Linked DNA regions of Homo sapiens. The protein of the gene in region 4 purifies or fractionates together with the protein of the main gene of each other region. This does not show direct contact. Each region holds a gene or a part of one and is shown on either strand. Other genes may lie near its edges. The genes, in order: ADD1, SAFB, GNAI2, GLDC, SRRT, GTPBP1 and DNAJC10.

Region 1 (3,500 bases), on a different chromosome or scaffold from region 4:
TGTATTAGCCAGGACGGTCTCAATCTCCTGACCTCATGACCCACCTGCCTCAGCCTCCCAAAGTGCTGGGATTATAGATATGAGCCACCACGCCCGGCCTCCTTTTATTTTTTTGAGATGGAGTCTTGCTCTGTCACCCAGGCTGAAGTGCTGTGGCTCGACCTTGGCTCACTGCAACCTCTGCCTCCCGGGTTCAAGTGCTTCTTCTACCTCAGCCTCCCGAGTAGCTGGGATTACAGGCACCCTCCACCACACCTGGCTAATTTTTGTAGAGAAGGGGTTTCACCATGTTGGCCAGGCTGGTCTTGAACTCCTGACTTCAGGTGATCCACCTGCCTTGGCCTCCCAAAGTGCTGGGATGACAGGCATCAGCCATCGTGACCGGCCTACATTTTTTTAAAAAGGTAATAACAATCATGAATGGAGTTGTTTTGGGTTTTATTTTCATAATTGTCCTCAGAAAGATAAGGTAAATGTGTGTACTGGCAGTTTTCCCATTTCTGAGCATGCTTTGTTGAGGAATAATAAAAGAGAATGACTCTGCCATAAAGACTATCTGCAGAAAAACACAGTTCTTATTAATTCAAGTTTCCTTTTGCTTAAAGAGCCAGAACTCAGTAATCTCCACAACTTCAGAATAAACCACCCAGGACTCATCAACATCATTTTATCCTGAAACCATATGGATTTTTCTTTATTCTTCCCCTTTAAATGCTGTTAAACCAAAACCAGAAGTAATACTCAGACCTCAGAACTACTATCTGGCTTGTAGTTAAAAACATGGATTTGGGTCAGGCGTGGTAGTTTACACCCATAATCCTAGCACTTTGGGAGGCTGAGGTGGGAGGACTGCTTCAGCCCAGGAGTTCAACACCAGCCTAGGCAACATGATGACATCCTGTCTCTCCAAAAAAAAAAAGAAAGAGAAAATATATATGGATTTGTTCCTTCTTTGAGAAACTGAAATTATATCTTGATTTTTTTTGGGGGGGGGACAATTTAGCATTTTTTTTCTAACTGTAGAAGTTCAAATGAAATATTATCTCTCTTTTTGAAATTTTTTTATTTTTTGTGGAGAGGAATCTCGCTATGTTGCCCAGGCTGGTCTTAAGCTCCTGGTCTCCCACCTCAGCCTCCTGAAGTGCTGGGATCACAGGAGTGAGCCACTGTGCTCGGCTGCAACATATATTATAGTGTGGAAATTGGCAACTATTCTCTACTCAGTTATTAGCAAACAACATATATGCCAACCCCGATGCTAAATTAAAACATGGACTATGATTAGTGATTGCTGTCTAGTTTATTTCTTATAAACTATATGGCCTTCTAATATTAAAACAATCTGTACACATTAAGGACACTGAGTAAACATTCATCATGCTTTTTGTAATGAATGTTTTACTTATTAATCATTCATCCTTATCTTCCTTCCCTACCAAATCAGAGTTTCTACCTGATTTTGACTTCCCCCTCTCCGCCTTCTAGGATGTGCTTTCAGCACAGTCTTTGGTGGCTGCTGTGCATTCTGACCCCCCTCTCTCCTCCCTCACACTGACTGTAAGTAGAAGAGCAGCAAAATGTCGCCGTATTTACCAGGAGGCAGGGGCTGTGTGACTGGGCCAACCTCAGCCCTCCTTACCTTGCACAGCCATGCTGGATGACCTGGCTCCTGACGCACACCTGGGCCATGGCTGCCCCACTCTCAAGCTTTCTCCATCTATGAGTCCCTGCAGCTTCACTACCCTGGCTGGCCACCCAACTCTAACTGCTTCTTCAGCCTTCTTCATGAGCTTTTGCTCCTCTTCCTACCTCCTTGACCAATCGGCACCCACCTCTGCCTGCAAGCTCTCATCATGCCTATGACTGCACAGATCACAGGGGCAGGGCTCATTTGGGAATCGTTTGTCCATCTCTCTTATTAGGTCATAAACTCCTGAGGGCAAGAACTGTGTCCTGTTCATGACTCAACAGTAGACAGTCAATTAATGCAATCAACCTCACTGATTATATGAACTCAAAAAGTTACGCTAGACTCTGCCTTCTCTGTTCGTCCCTGTGTCACTGATTGAGTCTACTCCACTGACTGACTATCGCGCCCAGGCAGAAAACCCTCAGTTCCTCCTTTCTAGCGGACAATATTCATCCCAAGTGCAAAGAATTTCAGTAAGAACATTTAACATAGCCTGAATCAGACCTATGAATACTTTTTATTCCAAACCTTCAGGAAAGTTAAACTTCCTGCCTCCTGAAGCCACCCTGCTTCCTGAAGCCACCCATCTCATCTGTGATCTGGTCCAAGGGCCACGCCTGTCTTAGGCTGGAACGTGCCCACTTGTCCAGTACTGGCTGGCAGCATACAAGGATACTGGCCCCTCTGAGGCCTTCTTTCCCCACACTGACATGTCCTCACATCTACACCACTTGAGGTCATGTGGCGTTAGGACGGACCATCGTGACCCCCATCTAAGAGGTCTGATGTGCAGCATGGAAGGGATCTGTTCCAGAGCCCTGTGTCTGATGATGTGGCTGCGGGACTGAGACCCCAAGGGCAGTGTTCTAATACAGCTCTAAGAACTGAGTATTTAATGATCCTGGTAAAGTCAAGATGAACCTGAAAGGTGCACCGTACGTTGCATGTTCCCATCTCCCCACTCCCATTGTCTGCAGCTGTGCTGTGGCCTCTTCATCCTGTCATCCTGTTTTTTTCCAGGCTTTCAAACGCAGGCTAAGATCCTACCTATTCTTTGAGGTCATTTCCAAGGGCTACCTTCCACATAAAATTTTCTCTCCAGTCCTTGCAAAAGAATGAAATTCTTCACGGCAACCCTGTAACACAGAACACATCCTGTGTGTCTGCCCTCCTATCACAGTGTGGGCTCACTTTCCCTGTGTGCTGCAGGCCCCATAAGCCCGCCTTCTGGACCATGCCGGGCTCTGTGTCCCTGCAATAAGCAGCTGAGGGGCTCCCACGCTGTGGACAGGGAGTGGATACCCATGGAACACAGTCATCAGGCCCCAGACAGCCAGGATTTGCTGTTAAGACAAAAGCCTAAATACCTGACTGACCGATTTCAAAAGTGCCACCTCTCTCGCTTGCTTGTGGGATGGTGGGGACTGAGCTGACACAGCTGGTCATCCAGCTGCCTACGCATTCTCTGTGCTCTTGTCCCCACTGAGTCCAAACACAAGGTTATCTTTAAAAAATAAAACAATACCAGGAATCCTTCACCTCTACATTTTATTGTAATTTACCTCAGAAGTTAAACAACCCTAGTGCTTCTTCATGACTTTGAAGGTGAAGGTATTCAGATACTGCATAAAAGACAGCAATCGCACTTGCTGTAAGAACACCAACACTGATGCTTTTAGAACAAAAGGTTTATCATCAAGTGGTGGCACCATTCTTACCAGATTATCGAGCATCCGCATGAGGGCTTCAAATTCCTGCTCACCAATCTGCCACTTGGGAGGCGATCCAGTGCCTTCCCCTACCGGAGACC
Region 2 (3,500 bases), on a different chromosome or scaffold from region 4:
AACCTAGACTTTTCTAGTGCTTTACTTTTCTCTTTCCTCATTTTGCCTCTTGCTCAAAGAAAGGGCAGGAAGAAGGCACGCTGAAGGGAAAAGAACCCATTCTATGGGAAATTCTGTGGCTACCACTGTAGCTTCAGACTTACCTGTCCTTCTCGTTCTCCCATCATTGACCTTGAACCTTCTCTCCTGAAAAGGCAATTTAAATCAAACCGTAAGGGGAAGAAGAGGCTTGTTCACAAAGAGAGGACCATCAGGCCCCCAATGAAAAGCATAATTTCCCTAACTGAAGGCAGGAGACCTGCGGGTCTGACTCAGCATACATCTGATGAACGGAGTGGGTTCAGAGAGCCCAGGAGTCCTTGTTCTCAGTCAGAATGAGCCAGGAAAAAGAAAACCCGCACGCCCAGCAGGGGCCCAACTGACCTGTCCACCGAGTGGTCGGGGTAGCGGCCGCGGTCCCTGTGGTCAAAGTCGTGGAAGCGGTCCTGGCGGTTAAAGTCAGAATGGTAGCGCTCATCCAGGGCGGCCCGCTTGGCTTCCGGCCAATAGGCATCATCTCGCCTGTGAGGGGACATGAGACAGAGATAGAGGGATCCCCCACCCCAAATGTATCTATCACCTTTGTGGGAGCTGGCCCCTAGCACTTCACAGAACCAGGATGACTTTCACCAAGAGTGTTCTCTCCTATAGGAGGCAAGGTCTGATTTGACCCCAGTGACTGCACAGTTGTTTTGTTTTGTCCCATGCACCCACCTCCCCTGATGAAAAGCGGCCTCGGTTTTCCAAAGAGGGAGCCATTAGTTAAGCAGTCAGTCCTATGGGCTGCCTGCAGATGGCTTCTGGAGCCCTACACAGCCACCTCCGCTCAGGAAGACCACGTGAGCCTCCACCCCGAGGGGCTCTGTCAAGTGCACCTGCCATCTCTCTCGCCCCAAAGCTGACCTCCTGCCCTGCCAGCAGCCCTGGCCATGTACTGCTGCAATACACAGATGACCATAATGAACTGTCATCAGAAGGATTTCGTACCAAAGCATAATAGATCCTAGAACAGTTTACAAGGCCCTTTATAGAAGTTGCATTGTATATATGACCTGGGCTCCTCTTCAACCCATGCAATAGAAAGAAACAACAAACAGCAATTTTTGCCAGGTTGCAGTGCACGTGTAAAGCCTGACACAATCACTGCTGGAATTACACACCTGACTCCTCACAGCAGCCATGCTCAGCATTTTGTGTTCATACCTCCTCTTCAGTATGTTTGAGAAATTAAAATTAATCTTACTGCCGGGCGTAGTGGCTCATGCCTGTAATCCCAGCACTTTGGGAGGCCAAGGTGGGTGGATCACCTGAGGTCAGGAGTTTGACAGCCTGGCCAACATGGTGAAACCCGGTATCTACTAAAAATGCAAAAAATTAGCCGGGTGTGGTAGCACATGCCTATAATCCTAGCTACTTGGGAGAGTGAAGCAGGAGAATTGCTTGAACCCAGGAGGCGGAAGCTGCAGTGAGCTGAGATCACGCCATTGCACTCCAGCCTGGGCAACGAAAGCAAAACTCCGTCTCAAAAAAAAATTTTTTTTTAATTCTTTATTTCTAGAATAAGCAAAAACAAATTACAATGGATTTAAAAAGCCAGGACAAGGCCGGGGGTGGTGGCTTACGCCTGTAATCCCAGCACTTTGGGAGTCTGAGGTGGGTGGATCACCTGAGGTCAGGAGTTTGAGATCAGCCTGACCAACATGGCAAAACCCCATCTCTACTAAAAAAAACAAAAATTAGCCGGGTGTGGTGGTGGGTGCCTGTAATCTCGAATACTAGGGAGGCTGAGGCAGGAGAATCGCTTGAACCCAGGAGGTGGAGGTTGCAGTGAGCAGCGATCGCGCCATTGCACTCCAGCCTGGGCAACAGAGCGAGACTCTATCTCAAAAAAAAAAAAAAAGGAAAGGGCCTTAAAGGAGGTGCAGTAGGGCACGTGTGGCGCTCTCTACGTGCCTGAGCTTCCCTCCTCAGGAGGTCTGTGCCACCCTTGAACCTGGTTAGTTAACCAGCACTACTTTATCCAGCCTCCTGTCTCTAATTTTTTTTTTTTGAGACCGAGTCTCACTCTATTGCCCAGGCTGGAGTGCAGTGGCACGATCTTGGCTCACTGCAACCTCTGCCTCCTGGGTACACGCGATTTTCCTGCCTCAACCTCCCCAGTAGCTGGGATTACAGGCGCCTGTCACCACGACCAATTTTTTGTATTTTAGTAGAGACGGGGTTCTGCCATGTTGGCCAGGCTGGTCTTCAACTCCTGAGCTAAGGCAATCCGCCCACCCTGGCCTCCCAAAATGTTAGGATTACAGGCGTGAACTAGCGCACCCGGCCTATGCTTCCTTTGAATGAAAGATCTCAAGCTGGCCGGTCGCGGTGGCTCACAGCTGTAATCCCAGCATTTTGGGAGGCCGAGGCAGGTGGATCACGAGGTCAGGAGATAGAGACCATCCTGGCTAACACAGTGAAACCCCGTCTCTACTGAAAATACAAAAAAATTAGCCGGGAGAGGTGGCAAACGCCTGTAGTCCCAGCTACTCGGGAGGCTGAGGCAGGAGAATGGTGTGAACCCGGGAGGCAGAGCTTGCAGTGAGCCAAGATCGGGTCACTGCACTCCAGCCTCCGCGACAAAGCAAGACTCCGTCTCAAAAAAAAAAAAAAAAATCTCAAGCTAACTGGACTGTGAGGTCCCTAACACGATTCTGAACGCCACGTGCTAAGGGCAGCATGGATCTGCTTACCGGTCCAGGTCGTAGGGCCGCCGCACCGCGGGCCGCCGCTCCTGCTCATAGCGCAGTTCCTGCTGGCGCCTCAGCTCCTCGCGCTCACGGTGGATGCGCTCCTGCTCGCGCCTGCGCTCGTGCTCCACGTGCATGCGTTCGCGCTCCAGCCGTTCCCGCTCCATGCGCTCCCGCTCCAGCCGCTGGCGCTGGAAGGCCAGCCTCTCTCGGGCAATCTCCAGCCGCTCACGCTCCTCGCGCTCCCACTGCGCCTGCATGCGTTGTTCGCGTTCACTGCGTTCACGCACCCTGCTGCACAACAGTAGAGCTGCAGAAGGGGACCTAGACACCCCCAGCCAGGTCCCAGGGCTGACTTTAAGTAAGACGCTGGGTCGCACAGACTCCAGGGCTGTGCGTCCACTACGTGGTCTGCAGAACCGTACACTCCAGCGGGAAGAAGGCTTCTCGGGCCCACAGGAGCAGCCCAGGAAGATCTCAGGAGTGAGGCCCAGGCTGTGTGTGTGTGATCAGAACTGGGCCTCCTTTCTCCAACATTTCCTGGAGCTTGACAAGTGATTTCAGGAAACAGCCAGTCAAAAATAAGCAACAGGCCGGGCGCGGTGGCTCACATCTGTAATGCCAGCACTTTGGGAGGCTGAGGTGGGTGGATCATGAGGTCAAGAGATCGAGACCAGCCTGGCCAACATGGTGAAACTCTTGTCTCTACTAAAAATACAAAAATTAGCT
Region 3 (3,500 bases), on a different chromosome or scaffold from region 4:
CTGTGTGGACAGCTTCACAAAAAAAGGAGACAGTGTCCACCATTGGCTCCATAAAGGCTTCAGAATGTAAACAGAGCAGTTCTCTCTTGCCCCTGGAACTTTGTGTGTGTTGTTCCCTACTTGATTGTTCTTTAAAACTTTACTCTGGGATCACCTCCCAGGATCCTTCCTGGACATCCTCCCTCGACCAAGGCTGGTGAAACATCTGGCTCCCAGCGCTGTTGCTTCCCCCCTCAGATGCCTGGAGACTGCAGGGCAGGGCTAAGTCCTCTTCATTTCTGTGCCCAGCATGGAGCCTGGCATCTACTGGGTGCTTCTCATCTGTTTGTTGAATGAAGGAAGTATCCTCTGAACCTGATTTTGGGTAGATGGTGGAGTAAACTGAGCGGCAGTTTGCATACTGTGGGCAGGTGGCAAGGGCCCACAGGCCCACCACAGGATTGGTGACCAGCATTGAGGGGACACTGAGAAAAGTTCTTCAGGCTGTTTCTTCCCAGCCCCGCCACAGGCTATGCTGGCACCTGAGAGAGTTCTTATCCCACCCTGTGCGGAACTCCTGCTGAGCAGAGTGGCTTTGTATTCTTCCTTCCAACTCAGGCTGTTGGTGCACTGCTAGAGGGCTGCTGTCTCTGACACTGCAGTAGCCACAGTCGAGCTTGAGCTGGCTGGTCCAGCAGGGGCTGCTCCGCAGCCCTGGGGCTCAGACCAGAGCAATGCTGTGAGAGTCCTGGTACTGGCCAGTGCAGAGACTGCACATAGCAAGGGCTCAATGAAGTTTACCAAAAGAAAAGAAAGGGGGTTTTGTGGCCTCTGTCCTGTCTGTGTCTCTTGCAAAGGGCTGGCATACTATAGATGCCTAATGAGGGTATATGGACAGAATGAAGTGATTGAACATGTCCATGAACAGGGCAGAGCTCCTGGGAGAGGAGTAAGTATAATCCTGGGGCAGCCACTGGAGCCTGGTCTAGCTAGAGACAGATAGGAAGGGTTAGCTTGGGATTCTGGCTGGCTGGGTAGTGAGTTAGACTCTAATGGTGCCTGTGAAGGGGGGCTTCCTGGAGGAGGGGGTCTGCTGGGCAGCTGTGAAGGATGAATACCATTTGCCAGGGCCAGGCACTGGGGGTCAGAGGGACCAACTCGACAAGAACACTGCAGCAGGAAGACTTGGCCTGTATTCCCAAGAGCTTGGGTGGGTGTTTCCTGGCCTGGTGGGGAAAGGGCCACCCTCCCTGGACCAGCCCATGGGGTCATCCAGACCTGAGTTCGAATCCCAGTTCCACCTATGGCACTGGCTGAGAGACTCAGCATCAGGTGAAGCCCTGGCAGGAGTCCTGCTCTCCACTCATAACCTGGGGGCAGAGTGCCTCCCTGCAGCCACAGGTTATGGGGACAGTCTACCAAAGCTTGGAGGTATGAAAAATGGGTGAGGGAGGCCAGGCGCGGTGGCTCACACCTATAATCCCAGCACTTTGGGAGGTTGAGGCAGGCAGATCACCTGAGGTCAGGAGTTCAAGACCAGCCTGGCCAACATGGTGAAACCCCGTCTCTACTAAAAATACAAAAAAATTAGCCAGGTATGGTGGTATGTGCCTGTAATCCCAGCTATTCGGGAGGCTGAGGCACGAGAATCGCTTGAACCTGGGAAGTGAAGGTTACAGTGGACCGAGATGGTGCCACTGCACTCCAGCCTGGGGGACAGAGCAAGACTCTGTCTCAAAAAAAAAAAAAAAAAAGAAAAAAAAAGAAAATGGATGAGGGACCCACTGCTGAGAGTTTGGTGGGAAGGAGTCTCCCATCCTAGAGGCTGCCTGGCCTGGGTTTGGAGCCCTAGGGAACCCCCTCCCCTGCCCTCAGGCAGCTGTTCACAGCAAGTGGGGAGCCCAAGGCGTGCAGATAGTTGGTGCCAGCAGGAGTGACAGACTGCCCTGGGGACCTTAGGCCCAACCTCTGGGGGTCTAGGTTTGGAGATGTGGTAGGGCCCTGGGTGCCAGGTGGGCCAGTACCCACCCAGGCTGGCCTCCAGCCCCTACACTCTACCCCAGCCCTCTCCTTCACTGCTGGAGCTCATTAGCACTTGAATGGGGGGCGGGGCGGCTTGGGCCTCTGAGTCTCTTCTTCCCACCCCTCCCCCAGGCTTGTCGGGGCTTTGTCTGCAGGAGCAGGCAGGGATAGAGCTCCCACACTAAGGAGTGAACAGGGGTCCAAGCTATAGCTGACCCCCTCTGCCTGCATCCTGCCCAGTTCTGCTAGGCTCAGCCCCTGCCTCTCACGCCAGTGTCAGTGCAGCCAACATGAGGTCATACCTCTAGGGTAGGAGTGAGACTAGGTCCTTTAAGGGATACCTCTGAGCTGAGAGACTAGGTGAATCAGGGCAGCTGGAGCTCAGCTGGGGGCATCCCAGGCGGGTTGGGGAGAGGAACCCCAGACAGAGGGCAGAGCAGGTGTGAGGACAGAGAGAATGAGCCGCGCTGCTGTGGCAGGAGGTGGAAGTCAAACCAGTTGCGGGACACAGGCTTCCATGTCAGAAGCCCTGAGGCAGCATCACACCACCCACTATGTGTCAGAGCCTAGGCTGCTGGATGGGGCCTGGGGATGGTCCGGGACCCCTTTGGCCCTGGGCAGCTTGTCAGCGGTTGGCCCTGGGTGGCCTGAGAGGTAGGGTCACTGAGTGCCATCACTGATGTCCCAGGCCCTTGAACATCAGTTTGCCTGGCAAGTGGCAGCAGGTAGTGCTGAGGGTGGGGTGTGGTCAGGTCCCAGCAAGGTCCCTAGGCCTCCAGCACTGCAGGGGGTGGGGCAGTAGGTGCACTTGGGGCTACTTGGGCCACAGGCAGACACACAGGTCCTGTATACTCTGCCGTTGATCTTAGTTCTTGGTCCCTGGCTGTGACTCTCTCAGTCTGTCTCTAAAAGCCACCCATTCACTTGGCGGGAACAGGATGGAGGAAGCTTTGTCCACCCAAGCTCTTAGCCACTGAGGAACCAGGGACTCCCCCCACCCCACCCACAGCAGAGGAGGAGACTGTCACCCCAGAGCCTGAGTGCTGCCTCCCCTACATCCCGTTGTGCTGTGGGGGGAGGCAGGACCGGGCAGATGGGGGCAAGGTACAGGCCAGGGAGTAGTCTCATCTTCCCAGCATCTCAGGCCAGGAATCCCAGCCTAGGAGTTGAGCGAGGAGGGGAAGGGGTCAGCAGGTTCTGGCCAGGCCACTGCTGATACACCCTGCCTAAGAGTGCTCTGCAAGGTGCTTTGGGGAAGGCAAAGGATTGGGCCCTTTGATGGTGTCCCTGGTACCTGATGCTCTCAGGCAGCCCTTCCCTCAGCTACAGGTGCAGGGTGGAACCCCGTCTGCCCAGCCCCACCCAGCCCTTCTAGCTTGAAGCTCTCGTTCTTACTAAACCCCAACCCCACCCTCACCCTGATGTTACTTCTTGGGGCTGTGGCTGCTCTTGGTGGCTGGGGAGGAAGAATCTTTCTGGAATAACCAAACATTTGCTGG
Region 4 (3,500 bases):
GCCAGGTGCTGTGGTTCTCCTTGTGGTCTAAGCTACTTGGAAGGCTGAGGTGACAGGACTGCCTGAGCCGGAGAGGTCGAGGTTGCACAGAGCTGTGATCATTCCACTGTAGTCGAGCCTGGGTGACATAGCAAGATACTGTCTCAAATAAAATAAATAAAATAAAATAAAAATAAAATGTTTTAAAATAAAAATGATAATAATGAACAGATGTTATACTACAGTTGTCTAAACCCCTAGAATGTGCAACACCAAGACTGAATCCTAACGTAAACAATCTTCACTTTGGGTGAGGCCAGGCGCAGTGGCTCACCTATAATCCCAGCATTATGGGAGGCCAAGGTGGGTAGATCATCTGAGGTCAGGAGTTCAAGACCAGCCTGGCTAACATGGTGAAACCCCCGTCTCTACTAAAGATACAAAAATTAGCCAGGCGTGATAGTTCATGCCTGTAGTCTCGCCTACTCAGGAAGCTGAGGCAGGAGAATCGCTTGAACCCAGGAGGCGGAGGTTGCAGTGATCTGAGATCGTGCCACTGTACTCCAGCCTGGGTGACATAGTGAGACTCCGTCTCAAAAAAAAAAAAAACACTTTGGGTGATAATGATGCATTAATGTAGGTTCAATTGTAGCAAATGCTCTGGTAGGCAATGCTGATAATGGGAGACTCTACGCTTGTGTGGAGGCAGTGGGTTTAATGGGAAATCTTTGTAGCTTTCACTCAGTTTTGCCATGAACCTAAAACTGCTCTAAAAAATAAAGTTGGTCGGGCAAGGTGGCTCACGCCTATGATCCTAGTATTTTGGGAGGCAGAGTCGGAAGGATTTCTTCCTGAGCCCAGGAATTCGAGACCAGCATGGGCAACACAGTAAGATTGTCTCTAGAAAAAATACAAAAATTAGCCGGGCATGGTGGCATGCGCCTGTAGTCCCAGCTGCTCAGGAGGCTGAAGTGCGAGATCACTTGAACCCAGGAGGTCGAGGCTGCAGTAAGCTGTAATCACACCACTGCACTCCAGCCTGGGCAACAGAGTGAGACCCCATCTCAAAAATAAAATTAAAAAACCCAAAATAGTCCAGGCACAGTGGCTCATGACTGTAATCCCAGCACTTTGGGAGGCTGAGGCGGGCAGATCACTTGAGGTCAGGAGTTCAAGACCAGCCTGACCAATACGGTGAAAGCCCATCTCAACTAAAAATACAAAAATTAGCTGGCTGTGGTGGTGGGTGCCTGTAATCCCAGCTACTCGGGAGGCTGAGGCAGAAGAATTGCTTGAACCCAGGAGGCGGAGGTTGCAGTGAGCCGAGATCGTGCCATTGCTCTCCAGCCTGGGTGACAGAGCAGAACTGGTTTTGTTTGTTTTTTTTTTTAAAAAAGTCCGGGCACAATGGCTCACGCCTGTAATGCCAGCACTTTGGAAAATCCCAGCACTTTGGAAGGCCGAGGCAGGCGGATCACTTGAGGTCAGGAGTTCGAAACCAGCCTGGCCAACATGGTGAAACCCCGTCTCTACTAAAATATACAAAAATTAGACAGGCGTGGTGGCAGGTGACTTAATACCAGCTACCTGGGAGGCAGAGGCAGGAGAATCATTTGAACCCCGGAGGCAGAGGTTGCAGTGAGCTGAGATCGAGCCATTGCACTCAAACCTGGGGGATAAGAGCGAGACTTCTCTCAAAAAAAAAAAAAAGATACTTTATCAAGATTGAGGGTTTTTTAATTTTGTTTTGTCTTGTTTTTTGAGATGAAGTCATTCTGTCGCCCAGGCTGGTGTGCAGTGGCGCAATCACAGCTCACTGCAACCTTCTCTTCCCTGCAACCTCCACCTCCCAGGTTCAAGCTATTCTCCTGCCTCAGACTCCTGAGCAGCTGGGACAACAGGCATGCACCACCACAGCCAGCTAATTTTTGTATTTTTAGTAGAGACAGGGTTTTGCCACGTTGCCCAGGCTGATGCTGAACTCCTGGCCTCAAGTGATCCATCCGCCTCAGCCTCCCAAAGTGCTAGGATTACAGGCATGAGCCACTGTGCCCAGCCAAGACTGAGATTTCTAGTTTGGGATTCTAATTTTAATAAGAAAGGAAAAACTGATCATAATTTATTTTAGGACTCAACACATTAAAAATTTTTTTTTACTTTTTTTTTTTCAAAGAGACAGGATGTTGCCCAGGCTGGTCTTGAACTACTCGGCTCAAGCAATCCACCCACCTTAACCTCCCAAAGTGCTGAGATTACAGGTGTCAGCCTGTAATCTCATCACTTTTAAAACAAATATTTTCACCCCTCCACTTTTACCATGATATACTTCGACATTTATCTGAATATCCCCCAAATAATTGATAGCATAATTATTTAAGATTCCATCAGGGATGATCCCGCAACAACATTCAAGTGCTTGCCGAATTATGTCTTGCACATTGCATTTCTCCATTTCCTTTTTCTCAGTGAAGGTACTGCCTTTGCTTGAGTTTTTGTTTGTTTGTTTGTTGTTTTTTTTTTTGAGACAGAGTCTCACTGTCGCCCAGGCTGGAGTGCAATGGCGCGACTTAGCTCACTGCAACCTCCACCTTCCGGGTTCAAGCGATTCTTCTGCCTCGGCCTCAGCGTCCCAAGTAGCTGGGATTACAGGCATGCGCCACCACGCCCAGGTAATTTCTGTATTTTTAGTAGAGACGGGGATTCACCATGTTGGTCAGGCTGGTCTTGAACTCCGGACCTCAGATGATCCACCCGCCTCGCCCTCCCAAAGTGCTGGGATTATGGGCGTGAGTCACTGCTCCCAGCTTCATCTTTGCTTCTTTACATTGAGAAGATATATTCCAACTCTTAACTCTGTCTTTCCATCCCATTTCACATCATTTCTGAACGCTCATGACATTTTACCCACAGCTTTCATGGCACCTAGAACTTTTTAACTGTCTGTCTGATCTATTTATATTAAGAAGGTAAGATGTAAGCCCCTTGGAGATAGTGACTATGTTTATTCAAATGTATATCCTCACTGGGCACGGTGGCTCCCGCCTATAATCCCAGCACTTTGGGAGGCCAAGGCAGGCAGATCACGAGGTCAGGAGTTTGAGACCAGCCTGACCAACATAGTGAAACCCCGTCTCTACTAAAAATATAAAAACTAGCTGGGCATGGTGGTGCGTGCCTGTAGTCTCAGCTACTCGGGAGGCTCAGGCAGGAGAATCGCTTGAACCCAGGAGGCAGAGGTTGTGGTGAGCCAAGACCGTGCCACTGCACTCTAGCCTGGGCAACAGAGCGAGACTCTGTCTCAGAAAAAAAAAAAAAGTATATCCTCAGAGTGTCTTTCAATAGTAGTCAGTAAACATTTAACAATTAGGCAACAAGGTGACAGTCCAATCTGCCTATTGAGAATTAATGACAAAAACAGAGCTTTTTCACAAGATGGCGCCGAAAGCGAAGAAGGAAGCTCCTGCCCCTCCTAAAGCCGAAGCCAAAGAGAATGCTTTAAAGGCCAAGAAGGCAGTGTTGAA
Region 5 (3,500 bases), on a different chromosome or scaffold from region 4:
GGAGGATGGACAGACGGGGGTACACACAGCATGGTCTCCCAGACAAGGGTTTCAAGGGACAAAGTAACGATGGGTGATGGGAAGTTGAGAAAAGGAAATGACAAAGATTTAGGCACAGGTGAGGGGAGAAAGGGGAGGCCCAGGTGGAACTGAGGCAAAGGGGAGGAGAGGGAAACCGCTCCATCTCACCAGTCTCTCCTCATGCGCTTCTGTGGCGGGCTGAGTTCGTGGCGAGGTGGCGAGAAGCGCTCTCGCCGATTCCGGTCATAGTCCCGATATTCACCCCGACTACGGCGCTCACGGCCACGGTCCCACTCTCTGGCAGTAAGAACAAGTAACAAAGATTAAAGGCCAGGCACAGTGGCTCATGCCTGTAATCCAAGCACTTTTGAGGCCGAGGCAGAGAACACTTGAGGCCAGGAGTTCGAGACCAACCTGGGCAATAGTGAGACCCCCCCCCGCCCCCCGCCATCCCTACAAAAAATTTTTTATTTTTTAAAAAGGTAACAATAATTAAAGATACAGCTGGATATGCCACAGCCACATTCCTAAACAGGCCCTTCTTACACCCTGAGATACCAGACTAAAAAGCCTACAATTATAAAACTTCGCTCCTAACAGAAAAAGATTTTTCTCTAGTCAGGGCAAGCCACTGCACTCCAGCCCTGGCAACAGAGACCCTGTCTCAAAACAAAACAAAACAAAGATTCTTGTCTAACTCCATGAGTTCAGCCAATACCCAAGAACTGATGGTTCTCCAACTCTTCTCCCAGCCTGGCCTTCCGCCTGTGCTCCAGACCCACATGAATCACCCCTGCTACAGGCCCACTTACGGGCAGGTCGCGGCTGCAGCAAGCTTCGACTGCACCAGTGCACTCAGCCCGGGTGACAGAGGGAGACCCTGTCTCTAAAAATAAAACAGAAAACTTTTTAAAAATCATCCCCTACTAGAAGTCCATCACCCCCTCAAATTCAGCCTGTCAGAATCAAGCCTATTCAGCCGGGTGCGGTGGCTCACGCCTGTAATCCCAGCACTCTGGGAGGCCGAGGCGGGCGGATCACGAGGTCAGGAGATCGAGACCATCCTGGCTAACATGGTGAAACCCAGTCTCTACTAAAAATACAAAAAAAAATTAGCCAGGCGTGGTGGCAGCCACCTGTAGTCCCAGCTACTCGGGAGGCTGAGGCAGGAGAATGGCGTGGACCCGGGAGGCGGAGCTTGCAGTGAGCCGAGATCGCGCCACTGCAAGCCAGCCTGGGCGACAGAGCAAGACTTCATCCCCCCCACCAAAAAAAGAAAAAAGAATCAAGCCTATTCATCCCACCACTATGGGCCCAAATGTCTTTTCCTCCTCCCGCTCCCCACTCTGCTGTATCAACGGAACAGCATCTCTCGCCAGCTGTCATTCACTACCCTCACCGCTAATTACTGCTCCTGCTAATCCTCTGCCTCAAAGCCTATCAAAGCTGTCCCACTCTCTGCCATCCCCACACACCCTGTCCTAGTCTTTGTCCTTGGCCAGTGTGGCTCCTGCAGCCCTGGCTGCCCGCCTGCTTCTGGTCTCTCGCTTCTGTCTCCCCACTGGCAGGCAGACCTTCCTCAAACACAAGTCTCATCACATCACACCGTTACTTCAATGTCAGTAAGCAACACTATTGTTTTAACTTGGGCTCCTGGCTGTCACTCCAGCCTCTCGACCAGTCACCAGCCTCTCCACCAGTCACCAACCTCCCAACCAATCACCAGCCTCCCCCATCCTCATCTTCTTCTTCTTCTTTTTTTTTTTTTTTTGGAGACAGTCTCACTCTGTCGCTCAGGCTGGAGTGCAGCAGCACAATCACTCTCGGCTCACTACAGCCTCCGCCTCCTGGGCTCAAGCAATTCTCCTGCCTCAGCCCCTTAATACTCTTAAAAATGACTGAGGACACCAAAGAGTTTCTGCTTATGTGGGTTACATCTATCGATACTTACTATATTCAAAATTAAAACGAAATGTTCCAAAACCTTCATTTTTAAATTACACAGTAAGATGAAACACATTACATGTTTTTATGAAAAATCGTTTTCCAGAAAAATTTTGGTGAGAAAAAGTGGCATTGTTTTTACATTGTCACCAATCTCTCCAAGTTCTGGCTTTGTAGAGGATAGCTTCTACACTGAATCTGTTGAGATATTTTGTTCTGCTTGAAAAATGAGGCAGGCCGGGCATGGTGGCTCACATCTGTAATGAATGCTAGCACTTTGGGAGGCCGAAGCAGTGGATTGCTTGAGCCCAGGAGTTCAAGACCAGGCTGGGGCAACATGGTGAAACCACCTTTCTACTAAAAATACAAAACTTAGCTGGCTGGCTGGAAGTGGTAGCTCATGCCTGTAATCCTAGCACTTTGGGAGGCCAAGGCAGGCAGATCACTTGAGGTCAGAAGTTTGAGACCAGCCTAGCCAACATGGCAAAACCCTGTCTCTGCTAAATACACAAAAATTAGCCGGGCGTGGTGGCAGGCACCTGTAATCCCAACTACTCGGGAGGCTGAGGTGGGAGAATCGTTTTGAACCCGGAAGATGGAGGTTACAGTGAGCCCAGATCACGCCACTATACTCCAGCCTGGGCAGAGTGAGACTCCATCTGAAAGAAAGAATGAAAGAAAGAAAGAAAAGAAAGAAAAAGAAAGAAAGGAAGGAAAAGAAAAGAAAAGAAAGGAAAAGAAAAGAAAAGGAAGGAAGGAAGAAAGTAGGTTAGCTGGGTGTGATGGCATACACCTGTAGTCCCAGCTAATCAGGAGGCTGAGGTGAGAGGATCACCTAAGCCTGGGGAAGTCAAGGCTGCAGTGATCTGTGGCCATGATCGTGCCACTGCACTCCAACCTGGGCAACAGAGTAAGACCCGTCTCAAAAAAAAAACAGAAAATCAGGCCTCATACTGATAAGGAGTTGGAAAGGCCTTTTCAGATTAACTGTAGATATTCATTTTGGATACTACCCAAAATTCAACAAGAGGTAGGTTCTTTTTTTTCTTTTCTTTATGCTACCTTGTCCAAGAAGGAAGTAGTTTCTCACAGGCTAGTTAGAACCTTCAATCTGAAATAGTATCAGTGAATATTTCTTTCTCTGCTGCATTAAAATCCACTGTTCTATCTTTCCCTTTCAATGGACCTGGATTATGTCTCACCCAATATCAAAATGTACTCATCAGCATCACTGCCTATCTCACCAAGAAAGTCTTTACTTAATGGGAAGCTGTCAAGCTCACATTAGTAGAAGTTTTCCAAAATTTTAATTTCCTTTTTTTTTTTTTGACAGGGTATCTCTCTGTTGCCCAGGTTGGAATGCAGTGGTGCCATCAAGACTCACTCCCACCTCCACCTCCCAGGCTCAAGCCATCCTCCCGCCTCAGCCTCCGGAGTTGCCGGGACTACAGGCATGTGCCACCACCCCCAGCTAATTTTTGTATTTTTTTGTACAGACAGGTTTCACCACGTTGCCCAGGTTGGTCTCAAATTCC
Region 6 (4,131 bases), on a different chromosome or scaffold from region 4:
AGCACCCTCATCTAAAAAGGCTGCACAGCCCCTTCATGCCCTCTCTGCTTCTCCTGAAGTAGCCTTTGAGCCTCAGGCCTTATATGAGCCAAATAATATACTACAATGTGTATGTCTGAGCCATAACCCATGGTAAAGAGGGCACAAGCAGCCTGCCTCCTGCTGCTTAACAGGAAGGGCAGGACCCAAGTGACTGAGAATATGGCACTGTGGATAGAAAGCGCAGTGCTTTCCATCTACATGCCAAAGTCTTCTACCTGCAGTTGGCATCTGGAAGCCCACAAGACATATACCTCATATACCTCCATGCCCTCCACCCACAGGCCAGTGGCTTCCAGGATAACAAAAGAATTCTGTTCTATCTTGTCTTAGCTATATTGAATATTTGGGAATGAAAACTGCCTGCAAGACTCATCTTCATCAACAAAGCACCATCACCATTACCACTACGAGGAGTATTAGCACCGTCATTTTGCAAATGTCTGCCAATAACATTGAAGTGTCAACCATTTACTTGGGTAAGCCATTTGGCAATCAGACCCCATTCTCTAACCACTCCTGTGTGACCTTGGACAAAGAATTTAACCACTCTGAGTTTCAGTTTTTCAATCTATAAAACGGAGCTAATACTACCTGCATCCTAAGGCCACTGTAAAGAGCAAATATAATAACATGTAAAGCATCTAGTCCACAGCTCAATAAATGTGAAACTACAAGGTTTTCTTCACCCAATCATTCCCAGAAAAACCTTGTTGGATGAAACTAGCCACCACTATTCACTAAGTGTTTCTCCCTTTGGAAGCTCTCGGAGCCTTAGGTCTCCACATTTTCTATCGTAAGGACATGAACCTTTCGCTTCTAATCTGTTCCTCCGGAATCAATCTATTCAACCCAACCCTTCTCTCCCTCCACACCATCACTTTTTCTTTTTGATATCATCGATATTAATATACATATGATTTTTTTTAATTGTAAGGAGGACTTCCCCAGCTATGTGATGAAATAACACTTCTAGGAATATTAAATGAGCTGGTCAAGAAATGAAGGTACTACCGTCTTTGCAACTCTGCCCTGCAATTTCCTATCATGTTTCTTCAGCACCTTGACCATGTGTTGACATCCAGTTTGTTTGCTCTTGAGTCAGGTCCATAATCTTGTAACTTCCTGAGTTGACTCATCAGAGCTTGTAATTGTAACCTGGATGTTTCCTGGGTCTTTTACATCGTCCTGGCCATCCCTCTCTCTAAGTTTGGCCATCCTCATTATGGCCTTACAGGCACAAGACAGGACCAACTTTGACAGGCTAGCTGGCTTCCAAGTGCTCACCTGAGACTACAATGGCAAAGAGCAGTTGAAAATAACTTGCTTAGGTTGCAGGGAAAGTTCCTCCCCAGTTTAGGACCAAGTTTCATGCAAATTTGCCGCCATAAACTATAAAAAGTCACAAACATTTTCAAAGCTGGATAAAATGTCTATCGTAACTATCCTACAAATGTAAGTGGTGGTATTGGTGTTCTATCTTTCACCCACTGCTATTTAATCTGCACAGGAAATTAGGAACTATCTCGTTCACTTCAAACATTTACTGAGTCTCTAGTATGCATCAGGCACTATTAGGTGTCTTCTTAAATATTTCTAATTTTTACAACCCATCTGTACTTTCTTAAGATGAGGTGGTTGGAGAACTGAAAGGTTAAGAAACTTTCCCAACGTCACAGAGCCTTTCGATGGTAGGGCAGGAAAGGGAACCCAGCCCTGTCTGACTCCCAAGTTGGCATTCTTTCCCTAAGGAACGTTAAGCACCTTCAAAACACCAGTCACATCTTGTATTTACTTTTCTATTCTTCACAATGTCAAGCCGTTGGCGAGGCCTTAATTCCTGCCTACCTTCTCGACAGCTCAAAAAACACGGTTTTAAACGTCCTTCACTGCTCCACTCATACAAGATGAGCTTCCACTCACAGGATAGCGAGACTAAGGAGCCTGACCATCTTTCCATTTTGTTTCGGGTGGCCTCGAAAAGTAGACATTCTCGGACATGCTCCTCCCCAGCTGAGCGACTACTTTCTGTTTCCTTTCCCGAGTCTGGGAAGAGACGCGGCGGCCACCCTGCCCTGGCCTCCGACTACCTGTCTTCATGAGCGTCTCGGCCCCCTGCCCGGGCCCCCTCGCCCCTCTGCTGTCCCGCGCGGTCCAGGGAGAGGAGACTCTCGGTCTCCGAATCCCCTCAAGTGGGGACCCGAAGAACGGGGAGGGGCACTGAGCGGGGACAGGGAACGCGCGGAGCGCAGCTGGCATCGGGCGCCCCCGTTCCACGTGGCAGAGCCGAGGGGTTACGATCTCGGCGGGAGACGGGAGGGCGGGAGGCTGGGTTGGCGACGCGGGGGAGCCAAGGTGGGTGCGGGGACCATGGGGACGGCCCCTCGCGCCGCGAACCCCCGCACGTCCCGGAGACTAGCAGGTGGGCGGGCTCGGCCCCTTCTTCCCGTTCCGCGCTCCCCGCGGACAGGGCGGCCGCTGGCCCCGCCGTCGCCCGGGAGACTGCTCGGCCAGCCGCCCGCTCCCCTCAGCGCCCGCCGCCGCCGCCCGGGCCTACCTTGCTGGTGAGGTCCAGCTCTGGCTCGCCGTTGAGCGCCTCGCCGTCCTCGCTGCAGTCCGAGTCAAAGCCGCCGTGGAGTCGGGCGGCGGCCGCCGCGGCCCTGGCCGCCCCCGGGGAGCTGGGCTCGGGGGCGAACATAGAGGCCGGGACCGGCGAGTCCATCGCGGAGCGACTGCGCTCCGTCGCCATCTTTAATAACTTAGGCTAATTCGTAGCCGGCTTCCCTCCCTCCCAGGCTCATTTGACTAATCTATGCACAGAGCCCCGCCCCGCTCCTTATCGGAATAATTTATGCAAAACTCCAGCCGCGTACTGGGTGACACGTACCTCTAGCTAAGAAACAGTCGACTAGGCCTCTCAGCCACCAATCCCTGCAGAGCTTTCAAGTACCTAATGAATAATTAATGAGGCCCAAATCCCAACAACAAATGTCTGAGACGTCACGCGCCCTGCTCCCAGCTTGGGAGGGGGCAGTACCGAGTCCCCGCTACCCGCCTGAAGCCTTCCCGCCAACGGAAGCAGAGAAGTGTCTGACTGACACAGCAGCCATCCAATGAGGAGAGAAATACAAACAACGTTACTCGTCAACGCCCCTTCACTCTCCTTGTTTCCAGAGGCGGTACTAAGCCTGCAAATCTTACTGCAAAACAGTAGGCGCTGTAAGCCTTCCGATGACGGACAAGGGCAGGACCCAATCGAGTCATAGAACAGGTCCCGCGCCTGGACCTGCTCATGGAGATAGTAAACTGCAAAATGAGCCTCCCACTCGATTCAGTGACTGAGGCAGTTGCTGGAACGCCGATGTCCAACGTGCTGGCATGCTCCAGGCAACTTTAATAGTAGGATCGATGCTGTAAGTTCCAAGAGTTGTAATACTATAGCAGCCAGAGTGAGGCAATAATTAAATGCTGACCTTAGGGAGAATTCTCCATTCACTGCCTTTGCGGAGGCAATCACACGAACTAAAAACAGAGGCAAGCAGCTAAAATTAAAAGCCAAAAAACACCTCACCACTTTTGTGGTGAACTGCTAAACCGAAATCTAGGGTCTCATAAGGTAGTTTCCTATGGATTATTTTTCCAGTGTCATCAGTTGTGAAAAGCCCCAACCCAAAATGCCATCAACACACGTTTTAGTGTCTTGAATTCCTGTTTCAAAAGCCGGAAAAGCCTAGGCCGTCATTGTTTGGCGAAATTAGGGATTAACCAACGTCTATGAATGTCGGCCTTGGCCACTCGAACCAGGCATCAAGCAAACAAGAGCATGTTTGAGAAGATAAGGAATCCAAGACTTAGGGTTTGGACCTAAACCCTAAATCTTTAGTGAGCAAGTGGCAGGATTGAAAATGGCTTTCAGTTTTGGGGATCTACCTGAGAAGAAAGAGACAGTCTCTTCTTGTCCCTGTTTTCCACTACTATCAAGTCTTATTTGCACAAACACAGCTGGGAATCTTGGACAGGAAGTCATCTGATTCCAATGGTCTTGATACTGTTCTTATGTGCTTTTTAATTTCTTCCTTGCCAAATTGCTCA
Region 7 (3,500 bases), on a different chromosome or scaffold from region 4:
GGAAAACGTTCAAAGATACCCTGAGATAAGATTTTTTCCCCCAAAATCAAATAAAGCTTATCATTATCAGTAAGTATTCTCTCATATTTGAAGACATTTATTATAATTATTTAATTATACACTTAACAGTTAAGTTACCTGAACAAAATAAAAGTTAACCCAACAAATATTTATTGGGAGCCCACTACGTAAAGATAGTTTGTTAATGAACATTTCAGAAGATGAAAAGGGAGTATTGAACAGTCTCACTGTGCATAAAGCTTATAGTCTAGACAAAAAGATAAGGAAAGGAAGAGCTAACATTTATTAAGTCCTTAAACACCTTATTTGGTTTCAGGTACTATATTAGATACTTTACTCACCTTATTTCCAATAATCCTCACATATGCTCTGTGAACTAGGAATTACTACCCTTCCTACTATTACAGAGAAGTAAACTGTGATTCTCAGACCTTAGAATCCAAGGTCTAGGAGTTATCTAAGGCTTAGATAACTTCCCCAAGTCACACAGCTGCTAAGTTGAAGTTGAGGTTTGAACCCAAGTCTGTCTCAGCACCCATGCTGTTTCCACAACACCACGTGGTATTTCAGGTAGAAAACTCAAATGTAAGGTACATATGATGAATGTTATTAAACAAGTAAAAATGAACCATGGATTTCAAGAGAGGAAAGGGTCACAACTATGAGGAAATTATGAAAGGCTGCATTTTGTAGGTAGTTTTTGACATGTGTCTTTAAAAATGGGTAGGAATTTGACAGACAGTAATAACTTGAATAAAGATTCAGAAACTAAAACCCTTGGACATTCTGAGTTTCGCAATTCCCATAGGTCTACAGGAGATGTCCAGTAGACAGCTAGACATTCTGGGCTGTCTGGGGCACAAAGATACCAAGACTAGAGAAAAATACATTTGTGAGGCCTTATAACCAGAATTTGTAGCTAGGTATATTTGAGAAGAGAGATACCAGATGAAATCAATCAATATAACTTATTTTTTAAATTGCTACAATAAGATTGTTTTCTGAATACATCCAATAATAGAGAATCCTATTTACAACTAACATTTTTTCTTCTCTCAGCAGTTACAATGGTTGGAATAGGGATGCTTATTCCCTGAGAATCTGGGGTCTAGGGTGAGTAATTAAAATATATATCATTGTATAAAATAGATTCAAAGCCATTTACCCCCCTTTTATATCAATAGTTAAATTTACTGTGGGTTAAGGTTCTAGCATTTTAAATTACTTAGTAAAGTATTATATTAACCAAGATAGTACTGTACTTTATTACATTGCCCTTCCTTGACATCATTTTTAACTTAGAAAGTATTACAATATTATTGCATTTCATATGTTTGCTTTGGTTTTATATAATGAAAAATGATTTTGATCATTTGCCACAGATTTTTACCTCAAGTATCCACAGATCTAACACCTCAGACTTTCAGTGAAAAAGTTCTACAAGGGAAAAATCATTGGGTGATTGATTTCTATGCTCCTTGGTGTGGACCTTGCCAGAATTTTGCTCCAGAATTTGAGCTCTTGGCTAGGGTAAGTCATACCTGTCTTAAATAAGTTGTAGCCACATTCATGTTTTAGTAATTAGATAAAACATTGTAAGTATGTAATTTTTAGGTTTTTTTCTTAAATGTTTCCTCTGAATTTAAAAATAGCTATTATATTTCTATGACTGTAATGGTTGTAGTAGATTTCCTCTTTCTTTGTTAAAGCTTTTAGCTAACATCTTCTCTATCTTGGTAGACATCATCATCTACTAGCCATAAAAGCCAGAAACGTCTCTTTCTTCTCCCTCTTGTCTACTTTCTCCTCCCCACCCCAGTACTCTGTTGCCCTCCAGGCAGTTACTAGATTGTGTCAGTTTTATCCCCTAAATGTCTTTCAAATGTCATTTCTTATTCATCTCTACTGCTAACCTGTTTCTTCAACCCTTTATCATCTCTTGTCTAGACTTAACCATATTTGCCTTTTAAGTGCAGTCTTCCCTTGATATACTCAGGGGATTGGTTCCAGGAACCCCCATTCCATACCAAAATCTGTGCAGCTCAGGCCTCACAGTGGGCCCTCTGTATGCAGGGTTTCACATCCTATGACTATTCTGTTTTCCATCTGCAATTGCTTAAAAAAAAAAATTCCCAGTTCAAGCAGTTCAACACAGTTCAAGCCTTTGTTGTTCAAGAGTCATCTATGGTATTATACTGTCTACCTTTGTCAGTGCTGCCCTGGTGATCTTCTAAAATATTTCCCTCTCTGACTTACTAAGTTTCTTAATATGCATACATTGACTTCAGGTGTCTGATATGAGCTCTATCTCTATTGTCCACCTCACACCTTAGATTCCAGTGTAACAGAGTACTCCAGGTTCTCTGAACATGTGTCCTTATTTACATGCCGCTCCCTCTCTCTAAAATGCTCTGTCCTTACCTTGGTCATCTGTATTTTTTCTCCTCTTACTGCAAAACTCAGCTCCGATGGCACTGCTCTATTCTCTGCCCTTCTCAGTTAATCAGTGTCACCTGGATATGTTATCAAGTGTACTGATACAGTGCATATTAATTCTTTATTTATTATTACTTGAAAGATATTTAATTTGACCAGAAATAAAAGGAGCTGGATACCAATGGAAATAATTAGTTGTAGCAATTTTGGGTTTTGTTCGGTTGGTTGGTTTTATTTTTCGGTATAGCATTGTCCATCTTCCTTTGTAAATGGCTGTCTCTTCCTGAGGGCAAAGTCCATGTTTTATTTATTTTTATATCCTCAGGGCCTAACTCAGTAAATGCTTATATAAAATTAAACTGAATACATACCCTCAATGCAGTCTGAGCTTTTGGTGTTTCTTTCTGTCGTAACAGTCTTATTAGTGACCTAATCCAGATTGATAGCTTTCTTGCCTCCATAACTCGAGGAACTCTTGCCACTAGTGTTGGTATAAAACACTCAACTGGAATGAGAAAGTCAGCTCCAGTTCCACCAGTTCACACTAAAGCTTAGCATCCCAGGCCATGGGAATTTTTTAGCAGAGGGATTTTAAAGGTCTTACTAGCTATAAAAGATTATTTTTGTTATTAGCTGGTGCATCAGATAAGAGGTTTATTCTTTCCATTCTAATCTTCTTATGCTTCCTTCTGTAATAATTCTGCTTTACTCCATTTCTCATGTACTAAAAACTTTAGTTATAAACTTTGTAATGCAACTCTATATTGTATCTAGTAGAAAATTATTAAACATGAAAAAGACCATTTATTCAACAAATTTTAAGTACCAAATGAAAAGCCATTATGCTAAGTAGTAGGGCCACGTAACTCCACATGAAAGAAAAGGAAGATGAAAAGAAAGAAATTCCATGTCTTTAAGGAGATTTTAATCTAGTGGAAAGAGAAAATGGAAATAAATATAAGTAATACAAGATAATTGCTACAGTAAAATTAGAATGAAGCTGGAACAGGGGTAGAAGGGTGTCAGTGATGCCAGAGAAGGAT

Evidence for each region.
Region 1: the proteins of GLDC (region 4) and ADD1 purify together in Homo sapiens (affinity purification with mass spectrometry, with the first as the bait; one large-scale study listed by BioGRID). This does not show direct contact.
Region 2: the proteins of GLDC (region 4) and SAFB purify together in Homo sapiens (affinity purification with mass spectrometry, with the first as the bait; one large-scale study listed by BioGRID). This does not show direct contact.
Region 3: the proteins of GLDC (region 4) and GNAI2 purify together in Homo sapiens (affinity purification with mass spectrometry, with the first as the bait; one large-scale study listed by BioGRID). This does not show direct contact.
Region 5: the proteins of GLDC (region 4) and SRRT purify together in Homo sapiens (affinity purification with mass spectrometry, with the first as the bait; one large-scale study listed by BioGRID). This does not show direct contact.
Region 6: the proteins of GLDC (region 4) and GTPBP1 purify together in Homo sapiens (affinity purification with mass spectrometry, with the first as the bait; one large-scale study listed by BioGRID). This does not show direct contact.
Region 7: the proteins of GLDC (region 4) and DNAJC10 purify together in Homo sapiens (affinity purification with mass spectrometry, with the first as the bait; one large-scale study listed by BioGRID). This does not show direct contact.

What each region holds. Positions count from the first base shown.
Region 1 is NC_000004.12:2,899,344-2,902,843, reverse strand, and holds part of ADD1 (alpha-adducin), read right to left. Parts: coding exon 3,409-3,500; intron 1-3,408. UniProt on the Homo sapiens protein: Membrane-cytoskeleton-associated protein that promotes the assembly of the spectrin-actin network. Binds to calmodulin.
Region 2 is NC_000019.10:5,661,083-5,664,582, reverse strand, and holds part of SAFB (scaffold attachment factor B1), read right to left. Parts: intron 3,066-3,500; coding exon 2,775-3,065; intron 562-2,774; coding exon 424-561; intron 187-423; coding exon 144-186; intron 1-143. UniProt on the Homo sapiens protein: Binds to scaffold/matrix attachment region (S/MAR) DNA and forms a molecular assembly point to allow the formation of a 'transcriptosomal' complex (consisting of SR proteins and RNA polymerase II) coupling transcription and RNA processing.
Region 3 is NC_000003.12:50,239,204-50,242,703, forward strand, and holds part of GNAI2 (guanine nucleotide-binding protein G(i) subunit alpha-2), read left to right. Parts: intron 1-3,500. UniProt on the Homo sapiens protein: Guanine nucleotide-binding proteins (G proteins) are involved as modulators or transducers in various transmembrane signaling systems.
Region 4 is NC_000009.12:6,635,730-6,639,229, forward strand, and holds part of GLDC (glycine dehydrogenase (decarboxylating), mitochondrial precursor), read right to left. Parts: exon of another isoform or gene 3,396-3,500; intron 1-3,395. UniProt on the Homo sapiens protein: The glycine cleavage system catalyzes the degradation of glycine.
Region 5 is NC_000007.14:100,878,103-100,881,602, reverse strand, and holds part of SRRT (serrate RNA effector molecule homolog), read right to left. Parts: intron 908-3,500; exon of another isoform or gene 834-907; intron 319-833; coding exon 190-318; intron 1-189. UniProt on the Homo sapiens protein: Acts as a mediator between the cap-binding complex (CBC) and the primary microRNAs (miRNAs) processing machinery during cell proliferation.
Region 6 is NC_000022.11:38,704,613-38,708,743, reverse strand, and holds the start of GTPBP1 (GTP-binding protein 1), read right to left. Parts: upstream 2,801-4,131; 5' UTR 2,789-2,800; coding exon 2,597-2,788; intron 1-2,596. UniProt on the Homo sapiens protein: Promotes degradation of target mRNA species. Plays a role in the regulation of circadian mRNA stability. Binds GTP and has GTPase activity.
Region 7 is NC_000002.12:182,757,757-182,761,256, forward strand, and holds part of DNAJC10 (dnaJ homolog subfamily C member 10 isoform 1 precursor), read left to right. Parts: coding exon 1-69; intron 70-1,080; coding exon 1,081-1,134; intron 1,135-1,403; coding exon 1,404-1,551; intron 1,552-3,500. UniProt on the Homo sapiens protein: Endoplasmic reticulum disulfide reductase involved both in the correct folding of proteins and degradation of misfolded proteins.